Linked DNA regions of Homo sapiens. The protein of the gene in region 3 purifies or fractionates together with the protein of the main gene of each other region. This does not show direct contact. Each region holds a gene or a part of one and is shown on either strand. Other genes may lie near its edges.

Evidence for each region.
Region 1: the proteins of ZFP91 (region 3) and E2F2 purify together in Homo sapiens (affinity purification with western blotting; one study listed by BioGRID). This does not show direct contact.
Region 2: the proteins of ZFP91 (region 3) and RSF1 fractionate together in Homo sapiens (co-fractionation; one large-scale study listed by BioGRID). This does not show direct contact.
Region 4: the proteins of ZFP91 (region 3) and ADARB1 purify together in Homo sapiens (co-immunoprecipitation; one large-scale study listed by IntAct). This does not show direct contact.

Annotation. Positions count from the first base shown.
Region 1 is NC_000001.11:23,507,234-23,510,803, forward strand, and holds part of E2F2 (transcription factor E2F2), read right to left. Parts: intron 2,916-3,570; coding exon 2,647-2,915; 3' UTR 1-2,646. UniProt on the Homo sapiens protein: Transcription activator that binds DNA cooperatively with DP proteins through the E2 recognition site, 5'-TTTC[CG]CGC-3' found in the promoter region of a number of genes whose products are involved in cell cycle regulation or in DNA replication.
Region 2 is NC_000011.10:77,814,153-77,817,722, forward strand, and holds part of RSF1 (remodeling and spacing factor 1), read right to left. Parts: intron 1-3,570. UniProt on the Homo sapiens protein: Regulatory subunit of the ATP-dependent RSF-1 and RSF-5 ISWI chromatin-remodeling complexes, which form ordered nucleosome arrays on chromatin and facilitate access to DNA during DNA-templated processes such as DNA replication, transcription, and repair.
Region 3 is NC_000011.10:58,613,504-58,617,073, reverse strand, and holds part of ZFP91 (E3 ubiquitin-protein ligase ZFP91), read right to left. Parts: intron 2,846-3,570; coding exon 2,731-2,845; intron 359-2,730; coding exon 259-358; intron 1-258. UniProt on the Homo sapiens protein: Atypical E3 ubiquitin-protein ligase that mediates 'Lys-63'-linked ubiquitination of MAP3K14/NIK, leading to stabilize and activate MAP3K14/NIK. It thereby acts as an activator of the non-canonical NF-kappa-B2/NFKB2 pathway.
Region 4 is NC_000021.9:45,186,071-45,189,640, reverse strand, and holds part of ADARB1 (double-stranded RNA-specific editase 1), read right to left. Parts: intron 1-3,570. UniProt on the Homo sapiens protein: Catalyzes the hydrolytic deamination of adenosine to inosine in double-stranded RNA (dsRNA) referred to as A-to-I RNA editing.

The DNA.
Region 1 (3,570 bases), on a different chromosome or scaffold from region 3:
CAGGCTGGGCCTGGTGGCTCGTGCCTGTCATCTCAACACTTTGGGAGGCCGAGGTGGTGGATCACTTGAGGTCAGGAGTTCAAGACCAGCCTGACTAACATGGCAAAACCCCGTCTCGACCAAAAATACAAAATTAGCCGGGCGTGGTGGTGCATGTCTATAGTCCCAGCTACTCTGGAGGCTGAGGCAGAAGAATCGCTTGAACCTGGGAGGCAGAGGTTGCAGTGAGCCGAGATCAGGCCACTGCACTCCAGCCTGGGCAACAGAGCGAGACTCCATCTCAAAAAAAAAAAAAAAGAAGAAAAAAAGAAAAGAAAATACCACTCAAAATGTGTCCTGAAGCACTCTGTGGAAGTCGGGAGGCTTCAAGTGTCACTGGCAAGACGGGGGCATGAGCTTGTGTCCTGCACTGAATCTGAGGCTTAGCCTGGGAGGTCTAGCCCCTTGGCCAGGCAAGGTGTGAAAGGGACAGTAGAGGGGGACAGAGGCAGCTGCTGAGCACACGGGGCACAAGCCTGAAGGCAGCTCCCCTGACCAGCCATATGGAGAGGCCTCTAGGGCATGAGCTTACATTCCAGACTTCAGTATTAAACTCATTCCCAATGGGTCCTGCAGGCCCCTTCTTCCTTTTCTCTGATGTAATTCTTGGGGAAAGCTCCAGAGCCCAAGGAATGGGAGTCAAACACCTCTGACTTCAGAGATGGCACATGGCTAAATGGCAGCCCAGTGGAGACCTCAGAGCAGCCCACTCACCACAAACGAGATCCTACACAGGGTCCCTGAGCATGCTGGACTTTAAGACGGGCGTCTGATAAGACCCTTGTGAGTATTTGGGTAGGAGACCAAAAGCATTTCTGCAAAGGGTACACAATTAGCCCTGCTTATAGAGTGGGGGCAGCTGTGACCCGCTGACCACTCCTGGGAGGGGGCTAACTTGGGGGCCCAGGAATTTGAGCAAATGATGAGGCACAATTGTCCCCAGCTGGGCATTAGATCACATTGGGCCCCACCCTGAAATAATCCCTCGTCTCAAACTTCAGACATCAGTCAGTCAGCTCAGGAGCCATCCAACAAAACCAACTTCATATTTTAAACCAGCTTAATGCTACAAACTTTTCTAAAAAGTGCTGTCCAGCTGAGCCTCTGAGAAAACCTAGCTCCCTGAGGGGTGGATGGCAGGCCTCTCAGACCAACCCCTGAGCCTCTCTCCAGAAGTCATAGCCTTGGTTCAGCCCAGAGCACCCACATCCCAGGGTGGGTGGGGGAGAAGAGCAGCTGAGCTGAAGGGACAATGTGGGATGATCAAGCCTCTGGGGGAACAGGCTGAAGCCAAAAGACCCCCTCAGGACCCCAGGCCTGCAGAGGTAACATGAGTTCCTCTCCCCATTAGCTGTGAAGGCCTGGTCTGCCATGAAGACCTCTCTCTGTCACCCCTTCAGTATACCTGGGAAAAAAGGAGTGAACAAGTCACCAAGCCCCAGTCACCTCTGTCCTTGGGGTCTGAGTGAGCTCTGAGGGGTGGAGTCCTTAATGAACCATCCCCTTCAATAACATGGTGAAAAAATTCCTCCCAGGGAAGCAGAGAATGATGCCAGTGCCACATGGGGGGCAGAGGGGATGCTTTTGGCAGTTTTTTGTTTTAATCTGACCCTTCTTTACAGTGGGGCTGCCTCTGCCTACCAAGTCCTTGGTGCAAAATGGCTCCTGGACCAGCGCAAGGCAGAAACTCTGAGGAAAAGTGCCCGCCACAGCCATGACAGCTGCCCCCATGCTCCTGTCTGTTTTCCACGGGAGCTTGTCTCTGCTGGACCATTTTTACATCTCAAGGGGAGAGGTAAGGACTTCCTCAGGAAAGGGGTCTCCTGAGCAGGTGGCTCCTGTTTCCACAGGAGCCTCAGTGCTACCTGCCCTAGGATGGCTCCCTGGGACCATCTCTGGGACAGAGGCGACCAGGAAGCCAAGACCGGCAGCTCAGCTGGAGATGTGAGGCCAAGAACAGGGGAAGAGGCAAAAGGGCCCACAGCTGCCGTTTACTAGAACCATGAGGCCTAAGTGCAATTAGCATTCTAGCAGACTGGACAGCCCCTCAGAGTCCCAGCCCCCACCACAGTGGGGAAACCAAGGATGTAGCCTGGGCCCCTCCCTTGGAAACCCAGACCTGCCCTGGAACATGGACAGTGATGGGCCTGTCTGCAGAGGTCTCACTAAAAACTAGAACAACCTCCCTGCTAAAACTCAGGGAGGACAAACAAACAACTCAACCTGAAATAAATACAAAGGCATTATGTGCTTCTTGGTACGTCGAGGGTCCTAATTACCCCTCAAAAGGAGGTAGCAGGGCCTTTCCCTGGACTTGGCCACCTCACCTGCAGCCTTCTTGTGAGAGGTCAGAAGTCAGAAGACTGGATGGGCCTCCCTAGGCCCAGCTTCCATTAGGAAGGTGAGGACCACCCCTTATCCACTCCTCACCCGTACCATTCATATCTCCCCACACAGCTTCTGCCGGCTGGGGCAGGAAAGGCGAGGAGACCCCATGCCCTGAGGGCAGCACCTAGTGTCCAATGTCCCTGTGCAGGCAGAGGGGCTGTCAGCCTGTCTGTGAGGAGGTAGAGTCGGGGGCAGGCTGCTGGGGGCAGGCAGGGCCACTCAATTAATCAACAGGTCCCCAAGGTCGTAGGAGTCGAAGAGATCGCTGATGCCCTCACCCGCCTCCAAGCCCCACAGGTAGTCGTCCTGGTCCAAGGATGGGGAGAAGCTGATCAGAGGGGAGCTGCACGCCAGGGTCGGGGACAGGAACTGGTCCTCAGTCTGCTGCAGGAGTGGGTGCGGCAGCTCCAGCAGGCTGTCAGTAGCCTCCAAGGGGACCAGGGATGGAGGCGGTGGGGCCTGCTGGGGGGTTGGCGCTGGTGCTGGCACTGGAGACAAACAGACAAAGGTTACGCCTGGCCCTAGCATCCAACTCCTCAGCACGCGAGGACAGACTTCCGGTTCTCTGGATGACTGCACCCTTCTTCTCTCTCCTTAGCCTGGGTGGACTGTCGTGCTCTCAAAATCCACCTTCCAGAGTCTACACCCAACCCTACAACTTTTCATGTATTTTTTATTTTTTTGAGACCGGGTCTCACTCTATCACCCAGGCTAGAGTGCAGTGTTGTGATCTTGGTTCACTGCAACCTCTGCCTCCCAGGTTCAAGCGATTCTCCCACCTGAGCCTCCCGAGTAGCTGGACTACAGGCATGCACCACCACACCCAGCTAATTTGTGTATTTTTAGTAGAGATGGGGTTTCACCATGTTGGCCAGGCTGGTCTCGAACTCCTGACCTCAAGTGATCGGCCTTCCAAAGTGTTGGGATTACAGGCCTGAGCCACTGTGCCCGGCCAAAAAGGAAAGAAATTCTGACACATGCTACAACATAGATGAACCCTGAGGACATTAAACTATGTGAAATAAGCCAATCACAAAAAAACAAATACTGTGTGATTCCACTTACATTAGATACTTAGTCAAAATCGCAGGGACAGAGAGTAGAAGGGTGGTTGTCAGGGGCTGGGCAGAGAGGGGAATGGGG
Region 2 (3,570 bases), about 19 Mb from region 3:
TCGCGCCACTGCACTCCAGCCTGGGCCACAGAGCGAGACTGTCTCAAAAAAAAAAAAAGTTTTGGCCACAAGTGGTGACTCATGCCTGTAACCCCAGCACTTTGGGAGGCCGAGGTGGGAGTATCACCTGAGTCCAGGAGTTCAAGACCAGCCTGGACAATACAGCAAGACCTCATTCTCTACCAAAAAAATTTTTAAAAATTAGCTGGGCATGGTGGCATGTGCCTGTAGTTCCAACTACTCGGGAGGTTGGGGCAGGAGGATTTCTTGAGCCCAGGAATTCAAGGCCCTAACTCTGGGGGGGAAAAAAAAGGACAGAGTCTCGCTCTGTCACCCAGGCTGGAGTGCAGTGGCACCATCTTGGCTCACTGCAACCTCTGCCTCCCAGGTTCAAGCGATTCTCCTGCCTCGGTCTCCCGAGTAGCTGGGATTACAGGCGCCTGACACCAGGTCTGACTAATTTTTGTATTTTTAGTACAGATGGGGTTTCACCATGTTCGCCAGGCTGGTCTCAAACTCCTGACCTCAGGTGATCCGCCGCCTGGGCCTCCCTAAGTGCTGGGATTACAGGCATGAGCCACCGTGCCCAGCCGAAAAAATACATTTTTATAAAGTAGGCATTCACCTCAGAAATCCTTTGATAATGTTTGAAGCAATACCAGTTTAATACTGTTTAAGTCAGTTTCCTCTATTATTGTGGTTCAATTGTTTAGTGACTTGGAAACCCCCAAAATATGGTTTTTTTTTAATTTCAGTGCCTCCTTTCTTCCTAACACACTGGTGCAAACCTCATACAGAGCACACTGGAGCTAGCAGGCACTGCACTTTATGGCATACAAGTGAAAGAAAGCGTAAAATGGAAGAAGCAGCCCCTTCAAATGGCTAAAGGTGGTGTGACTTCAGACATGAGGATCAGGAAATGGAAGTAAAGGGGAAGTGGAAGAGTAAGGAGAGAATGCCTGCTGTTCTCTCTAGTTTAGGCATCAATTTGCCTGGAGGCACTGCTTGTGCCCAACAGTACAAGAGCGAGCAAAAATGTTTAAAAGTTAGCTAATGCAAACCTAACGTACAGATATGACCATATAAAGCTAAACAAATTAAAAATCAAAGCCTGCTAGAACATATGTAATTACAAAGTGTACATTATAATTGCCCATATAATTAAATGTTTTTAAAAGAAAATAGAAAATACCCTAATACCTTTTGTGGGATCTACTCTACAATAAAAACAGAAAACAAACAAAAAAAGCCAAGCATAATATATTAAGACTATACCCATCAGGTAGAGTAAAATTTTATTAAATCTAACAACACACATAACTGTCTTCCTTGAATACATGATTCAGTTTAACATGTACTTTAGGCCTGAATTATTCTTTTTCATATTGCATGTGGTCATACATCTCACCATAAAATTGTTAGATAATTTTAGTTTACAACTGTAGACTAGAATGCACGGACTATTGCTCCACTTGATAAAATCTCAGAGAAAAAAAACTAAGTCTTTGAATGATGTCATTAGTTTCAAGCTCAGTTTAGCTATTTCTTACTAGATTAGAAATTTCTTTTAAAAGGCTCATGTTTAATGTTTTTTTAAAAAAATAATCCCCACAATATTTACTGTAGCTACATCTGTACATAGCAGATGCTCAATATATATATTAAGTGAATAACCTCACTAATAAATGCTTGCTTACCTTCTTACCGGTGAGGTCTGTTTAAGAACTTAACAAAACATCTAAATTTAAGGCAAACTTCTTAATCATTAAAAGACTAAAAAGTAAGCCAGTTTGCATTAACAGGCTCATGTTAGCCAGACAAGTCCCTCTGTCTCCATTACCTCCTAGTTCCTAGGACAATGACAACAACCTCCCTCCAAACCTCCGTAACTTTACTCTATGACATATCGAAAATGGTGGAGATGAAATCTGTTTCTCTCTTTTCATCTAATAAGTGCCCTAAAGAATATTTGCTTTTTCAAAGGCAGAAGAGACACAACTAAAAAGTTTCAACCTAACCAGGCTCTGGCCCCAGCAATACTACTATTAATGTATGTATGCCCTACCAGTGTCTACCACTGTAGACTCATGCAACCTCTAGTACATGCACCTGGTAAAATCTTTTGTTTAAATCAACACATGTGGCCCCAGTTACAGTAATCACCTTTCCACTTTATCAAATGCACCTAAAAATATATTGTTACACACAGATCAGTTACAGTACCAGTAAGAGAGACCATAGTAAGTTATAGTTACAATTCCAGTTAAAAAGGCATTTTTTTAACTTTGATATTTTCACTTCGAGTTAAAATTCAAATCATTAAATGCAAAAATGAAACAAAAAACTAATGGCTCAACTTACTTAATATCATACAACTAATTCAGCCAACCATAGTATAAACTATGAGAATCCTAACACATTATCTGTATTTACCTTAATAAATTTATTAGATATATGTAACATCTCAACCAATATCCAGACTGTTTTTAAAGAATACAGTAGTATAGTTTCCTCTTGAAAAGAAATATTCTCTGCAGGAGAGGAAAGATACTTAGGAGCCTTGGGTGTCAGGGATCTCACAAAGTCAACGTCAACTTTATCCATAACCACCATCATCTACCTCCAGTTAGGAGAAACCTGGGGAAGTCCACACAAAGCACAGAATTGGGAGGACTAAAGTAGACTGCAGGGAGAGGAGGATAAAACACCACCTTCATTTGGCACATCCTTTTATAACTAGTATCAACTATAAATCTAAATTTTTTGTTGACAATTTCAGCATATATGTGGGCTTTTCAAATAAGAATTTGACTAACACCAACAGTTAGCTGTATACACTTGAAATCTCTCTCTGTAGCTTGATTTTCCTCCTGAAAAATAAAGGCAATGACACAATAGTCCCTTCTTTCTTGCCCCGAAATTCAATGATAGTTTCTAGAGCAAAGGTTCTCAAACATTCTAGCTTCACGGCACCCTCAGTATCTCAGTAATTTTCTCACAGCAGCCCTAGGCCAGAAATAATAACACTTCCACTTATTAAGTAGTCAGTAGCCATGTGAAAAAATAACCTAGCTAAATTTCAACAAATAATGTTTTTACTTCATTCTTAACCATAATTACTTGTGAAATGTGTATTACTGTTGGGCACTGCACAACTTTTCAAACCTTGGAATCAGAGTGGACCCTGCTATCCTCTTTCCTGCTGCATACTGACTTTTTTGTGAATTTTACCACAGCAACCGCTAAAAAACCAGCTTCACAAAGACATATCATCTATAGAAATGTGGCACAACCTTGAAACCATGAAGTATGTCAAGGCAGTAGCTCACCTGGCAACCAGCAAATTTCGGCTACCACTGTATCCTACTTGAAAATTTAAACTATCAGATGGAGTTGGCAACAATGCTCTAGGGTGCCTTGGTGCAGTTTGGAAACCATGATACTATGGCAAGGTATATAATTTTGTGGCTTTGGACTCAGACTTGGGTTGGAAATCATATTCTACCATTAACTATAGACTCTTAAGCACCTTAATCTATTGAGCCTTAGTTTCTATGCCTGCCAAATAGG
Region 3 (3,570 bases):
ACAATAATCAGTAACATACTTCTTTTGAAGGATTGGGAAATGTTACTAGATGGAAAACTAATCTGATCTTCTTCTGTTTGCCTGAAAAACAGAGGGAAACTAAGAAAAAGGCTACTAACTAATGCCCCCAATCAATATCCACTCATTTATTTGATGAAAGTAAACAGCAGTGGCAACTAATATGTTTGTAAAGCGGCAAACCTTCAAGTAGGGCATATATCCTTCTCACCCAGATGTTCACCAGTAAATAATACTCACTGTAATGGCTTCTCGCCAGTGTGAATCATCCGGTGCACTGCCAGATTGTGGGAACTCTTGAAGGCCCGAGCACAATATTCACAGATATAATCCCTTTGATCTATGAAGAAAATACTGTGGTTAGTGTTCTATTTAGATACCCTGTAAATATTTTCCCTTACAGTAAGTAAGCAGATGATGGGGCAGGCAATTTAGAGTAAAAGCAATGCTGTTTTCAATGTATAAACACTTTGGGTAAACAAAATTTAAAAAAGAAAAGTATTGCTTTAAAAAAAATCCAACATTCAGTAGCATAAGGACCTGTTTAAAAAAAAACAAAAACAAACAGAAAAACTAGATAAAAATATAAGAAATGGAATCCTAATCTCAATTTTACCACTAATCCAGGTCTTGGATACCAAGTGGTTAGCAAGTAAACAACTATATTTTCCATATATTTTACTCCTTTAAGGAGTAAACAATTTTTTTCACAGACAATGAAAACTGAATGATTACACAGAAAGAATCTGGCATTCAAACAAAACAAAAACAAAAAACAAGAACTTGGCACTGTATAGAAGAAAACTGATCTAAAGGTAATCATACCCTGTTTCAGGTTTAAAAAATGTTACTCAAGATAAACTTTTCTCAAAAGACTGGAGTTGCTGCTATCAAATATATGTAAATAACACCTGTACTACTTTACCTTATTCTCCTACCCATCTTCTGCACCTTTCAACTACCTCCCTTTGTCACTCACAACACCCTCAACCCCATTATGCAGGATTTCTGATGAATGTGGTAACACGGTGTGGAATCTATGAGGAGGAAAAAGGAGCATTGTACTTATTCATTTCTTTACCGTGTTTGGGAAGCCCGTGCACAAAGAGATGCTCTCTATATATATTTGTTGAATTAATGACCACTACATTTTCTACTCCTTTTGCTTCAAATTACCAGAATTAATGAGAATGAAAACATGAATTTAAGTTAAAAGGTGAACAATATCCAATTTAATCTTATACTCCTTTCCAAACAGCTTAGAGATCACCTGGATAGCTTATTAAATGTATATGCTGATTCAGCAGGTCTGAAGCAGGGCCTGAGATTCTGTATCTCTAATAAGAACCCAAATGATGTCAATGCTGGTTGGTCTGTATTCCATACTTTATATAGCAAGGTCTAAAAACGCACAGTTCTAACTTAGGAAACTCTTAGCATCTCCCAGGTCATGTCCACATTTCCAGTTCCATAGCAGGACAAACCTGTGTGGGGCATCTATTTGCTAAATAAATGACATTTGCAAAAAAAAGTCTGTATATACTAATTTGCAAAAGTAAAACATCATAAATTGTATTAACCAAATATAAATATTTGAAATGGACTGAATTTATAAAAGTTTTTCATACGCTTTTGATATTTAACTAAAACAATCTAAAGTGGCTGTCAGAAACAACTTTTCTATGGCATAAAACAGTATTAACAGGGAGCAGAAGGAACAGAGAAATTGCAGTACCTATCAAGAAACAGAAATAACTGTTACTTGTGGAAATAACTCTGAAGAAACATGGTATAAGAAAACTGTAGACTTTGGAGTGATTAAGATTCAAGTTCAATCCTGGTATTGTGCCAGGCTCTGTGTAGTCAATAGCATTTTATGTTATCTCATTTCATCCCTACAATAACTGATATTGGTATCCTTAATACACAGAGAAGGAAAAGTGAAAAGAGAAGTTAAGTAACTTTCCTACAGTAAATGAAGGAGTTATTTCATTTATCAGTATGACCTTGGGCAGGAGACATATTTCTACAACTAGAATTCCTAGACTTACTCTCTAAGACTGTTGAGAAGGTAATGTGTAATTATCAAGTGTCTGGGACATACTCAGTGGTATGCACCCAATTTGTTCCTATTAGGTACACTGCACTGAGATGGTCAGTGGTTACAAATAAATTGAATTTGAGTCTATTCTATAATACATATTGCAGACACTCAGCAACTCTTTTTGACAGTTCCTATGGGAGTTTACATGCAAATTCAACAGCTAGACTTCACAGTTTCAATAGCAGCAGAGTATTATGCTTCTCCTAAAAACTAGCTATGTGACCATGGGCAGGTTACTTAATCCTGCCAAGCTTCTAGTTTCTTAGCTGTAAAATAAGATCAATATAAACAAATTTAGTGGTGTTGAATAGACTAATTAGCAATAATATACATAACGTATTTAGTCCACAGTTGATACAGAATAAATGCTCAATAGAAGATCATTATCCCGGTCATAGAAGTTCAAGAAGTCAAAGGATAAAAATTCAAAAGTCCTAGTCTGCCCATCCCTTGTAAAATTTGTCTTACTACATTTTATTTTCACACCTTTTCCCCGCACTTGACTATAGAATCTTTTAAGACTTATGTTAGAAAAACGTTATCATTACCAACATGCAAAACTAAAGCACAGTGCAATTACCTACTTGATAAACACATTTTAAAAGTACCTGTATGATGTTTGGCATGTCGCAGAAGTTGCTTCTGAAGCCTGAAGAGTCGTCCACAGGAGGGATGGGGACATACATATTTCTTCTTCAGCAAATGCTGGTATTTAATGTGGTGCTAAAACAGAGAAAGTGAAAGGGGCGAAAAAAAAAAAATTAAGGCTTCCTGAAAGTACTTGTCTTTGCTAAGTCAAAAGTACTGAAGGAAAACCAAATACTTAGATTTCACACATGGATAGTGAGGGAGTATAATAAAGTGGCTAAGAACATAGGTGGAAATACACAGACCTGGTTTCCAATCTGGGTCTGTCATTCACTAGCCTTTGTAATCTTAGGAGACAAATATTTCAAGCTCCAGTTCTCATTTGTAAAATGGAGGTAACAATAACCATCTCAAAGTGTTGTTATGGGGATAAGAGATTATGTATTGTACTGTGCTTTAGAGCAGCAAATGGCACACAGCAGAGGAGGAGCGGCTATTGTTATAACTGAACCACGATCCAGAAGAAGGCCTTCGTGTCATGTTATATTTGTTGCTGAAGATCAAACAGGTATTTCCTAAGCAGTATTTCACTTTCACGTTTCCTGCCAGACCTAAATATAAGTGGTACGTTTACTCATCAAAAATAATAATAATAATCTACTCAAGAAAAATAAAAACAAAACCTCAACTAAAAGTCTTTTATTCATTCTACACAGTACCCAAGAAATCACAGGTTTGAGTTCTAATTTTACTTTTTTTCTAAATCACTTTAAAATAAAATGTTACTCTGTATTTACACCACATTGGGAATTACTGTAATATTGAAAGATTCCAACGAAAGTTCTCTATGTGGGTTCAGA
Region 4 (3,570 bases), on a different chromosome or scaffold from region 3:
GAGTACATTACCACTAGCCTGCTTTACAAGAAATGCTAAAGTGAGTCCTTCAAGTTGAAATAGAAAGACAGTAAATAGCAACATTAAGCTGTATGGAAAAATAAGGTTCTCCTGTAAAGGGAGGCACATGGACAAATACAGTAACCAATACTATTGTAATTTTGGTGCATAAAATTTAAATGACAAAAACATTACAACTACAATGTATATTAATGGATATACAGTATATAAAGATGTAATTTGTGACTTCAATAACAAAGTGTGAAGGGGTGGAAGTAAAGAAGTAAAGTTTTACTATGTAATTGAAGTTTAAGTTAAAATAGAATGCTATAATTTAAAGATGTCTTATGTAATTGCAATGGTAACCACAAAGAAAATACCTGTAGAATATACACAAAAAGAAATGAGATTTTGTACCCCACGGAGACAAAAGGAAAAAATAAAATAAATGAGAATCCTATAGATATGGTTTAGCTATGTCCCCACCAAAATCCCATCTTGAATTGTAGCTCCCACAATTCCCATGTATTGTCGGAGGGACCCAGTGGGAGGTAATCGAATCATAGGGGCAGGTCTTTACCATGCTACTCTTGTGATAGTGAATAAGTATCATGAGATGTGATGATTTTATAAAGGGGAGTTTCCCTGCACAAGCTAGCTCTCTTTTGTCTGCTGCCATGTGAATTGTGCCTTTCACATTCTGCCATGATTGTGAGGCCTCCCCAGCCAGGTGGAACTGTTAGTCCATTAAACCTCTTTCTTTTGTAAATTGCCCAGTCTCAGGTATGTCTTTATCAGCAATGAAAATGGAAATGGACTAATACACCTATCATTAGAAAAAATAATGAAAGAAACACAAAGGAAGGCAGTAAGAGAATAAGGGAAAAACAAGCAAAAAGCTACAAGCATATAGAAAACAGCAAAATGGCAACAGTAAGTCTTCCCTATCAGTGATTACTTTAAATGTCAATGAATAAACTCCCCAATCAAAAGATACAGATTGGGTAAATGGATTAAAAAAAAAAAACAATTCAACTATGTACTGTCTATAAGAGACTAATTTTGGATCTAAGGATACATAGGCCGAAAGTGAAAGGATGGAAAAATATATTCCATGCAGATGGTAACCAAATGATAGCAGGAATAATGAATATGAAAAACAATTCATTCAAACTATTAATGGATAAGAATATTGGGTCAGTAATCAAAAATTTCCCAATTAAGAAAAGCCCATGGCTGGGGGCAGTGGCTCATGCCTGTAATCCCAGCACTTTGGGAGGCCGAGGCAGGTGAATCACCTGAGGTCAGGAATTCAAGATCAGCCTGACCAACATGGTGAAACTCTATCTCTACTAAAAATACAAAAATTAGCTGGGCATGGTGGTAGGCACCTGTAATCCCAGCTACTCGGGAGGCTGAAGCAGGAGAATCACTTGAACCCAGGAGGCAGAGGCTGCAGTGAGCCAAGATTGTGCCACTGCACTCTAACCTGGGTGACAGAGCGAGACTCCATCTCAAAAAAAAAAGCCCAGGACCAAATGTTTTCACTAGAGAATTCTACCAAACATTTAAGAATAATTACCACCAATCCTCCTGAGACTCCCAAAAAAACTAAAGAGAACATTTCCAAGCTCACTCTATGATGCCAGCAGTACCCTGATATCAAAGCCAAAGACATGAAGAAGGGTAAAAAAAGCTACAAACCAGTATCTCTGATGACTACTGATGCAAAAATTCTCAACAAACCAAATTCAATAGCATATTAAAAGGATTATACATTATGATACTCCTGGAATGCAAGGATGGTTCAACATATGAAAATCAATTAATACATTACATTAACAGAATGAAGGGCAAAAGCCACATGATCATCTCAATTGATGCAGAAAAAGCATCTGACAAGATTTAACACCCTTTCTTAATAATAATAAATACATTCAACAAACTAGGAATAGAAAAAAAACTAACTCAACGTAATAAAGGACATTTATGAAAAGACCACAGTTAATACTGTACTCAACGGTGAAAGACTGAAAACTGTTCCTCTAAGATCAGGTACAATGCAAGGATGTCCACTTTTGCCACTTCTATTTAACACAGTATTAGAAGTTCTAGCCACAGTAAGTAGGCATGAAAAAGAAATAAAGGGCATCCAAAATGGAAAGGAAGAAGTAAAATTATATCTGTTTGCAGATGACATAATTTTATATGTAGAAAACCCTAAAGATTCCATAAAACTGTTTAAATAATAAACACATTCAGCAAAATCATAGGATACAAAATCAACACACAAAAATCAGTTGCATTTCCATGCACTAACAATGAATGATCTGAAAAGGGAATTAAGAAAACAATTTTCAATAGCACAAAAAAGAATAAATTACTTAGTAATAAGCCTAACCAAGGGGGTGAATGGCTTGTAAAATAAAAATTATAAAACACTGCTGAAAGAAATGAAGATACAAATAAATGGAAATATATCGCATGTTCATGAGTTAGAAGACTTAATATTGTTAAGATGTCCATATTAACCAAAGCAATCTATAGAGTCAACATAATCCCTATCAAAATAACGATGGCATTTTTTGAAAAACTTCATCCAAAAATCTTTATGAAATATCAGGAGACCCTGGATAGCCAAAAGGATTTTGAAAAAAGAAGAATAAAGTTGGAGGATTCAAACTTCCTCATTTCAAAACATATTACAAAGCTACAGTAATCAAAACAGCATGACACTGGCATAAAGAATAGACATATGGAATAGAACAGACAGCACAGTAATAAACCCTTGTGTATATGTTCAAATCATCTTCAACAGAGTGCAAGACTACTCAAAGGGGAAAGGACTTGCAAAAGACACTGCATCTTCTCAAAGGGCTAAGGATTACAATATCAACTGTAAAAGGAACTCTGAAAATCAAGAGGAAAAAGGCATGAGATTCAAAAGACAAATGAACAAATGATATTAACAGACAACTCAAAGAAGGTGTAAGATGAACAGTTAATATGTAATTGAAGAGATGCCCAACATTCCTAGTGATAAAGAGAAATAAAAATTGAAACTATGAAGATATCAGTTTACAGAATGTGGGAGAAGCTAACTTAATGCACTATTGGTGTAAGTGTCAACTAGTGTGACTGCCCTGGGATGCAATCTGATATTATTCTGTGAAGTTATATATGTGCATAACTCCTGAATATATGCCCCAAGAAACTCTAGCAAAGTCTATAATATTGTGATGGAGTTTGCATAAGTTGAAGGATATACAGGACTACATGTATAAGGGAGTTAGAAGAAATATGGGTGTCCCATCATGAAGGAAATGGCCCATGACTATGAAGGAAGATTTGCAAAAGTCAGTAGTGAACTGGCTGTTGGTTAGAGCAACAGAAATAGCTCCAAAAATATAGGTTGAATGAAAATGTAAGAATCAGATAGGATTTACAGCATAGTATCATTTCTGTAAATTAGCAACAAATACTCCAAATAATTCTATTGTGTATTTTTCAAGAGTACACCCCCCTCCCCCACATCACACACACACAAAGTTGACATATGCACGTGTGGAG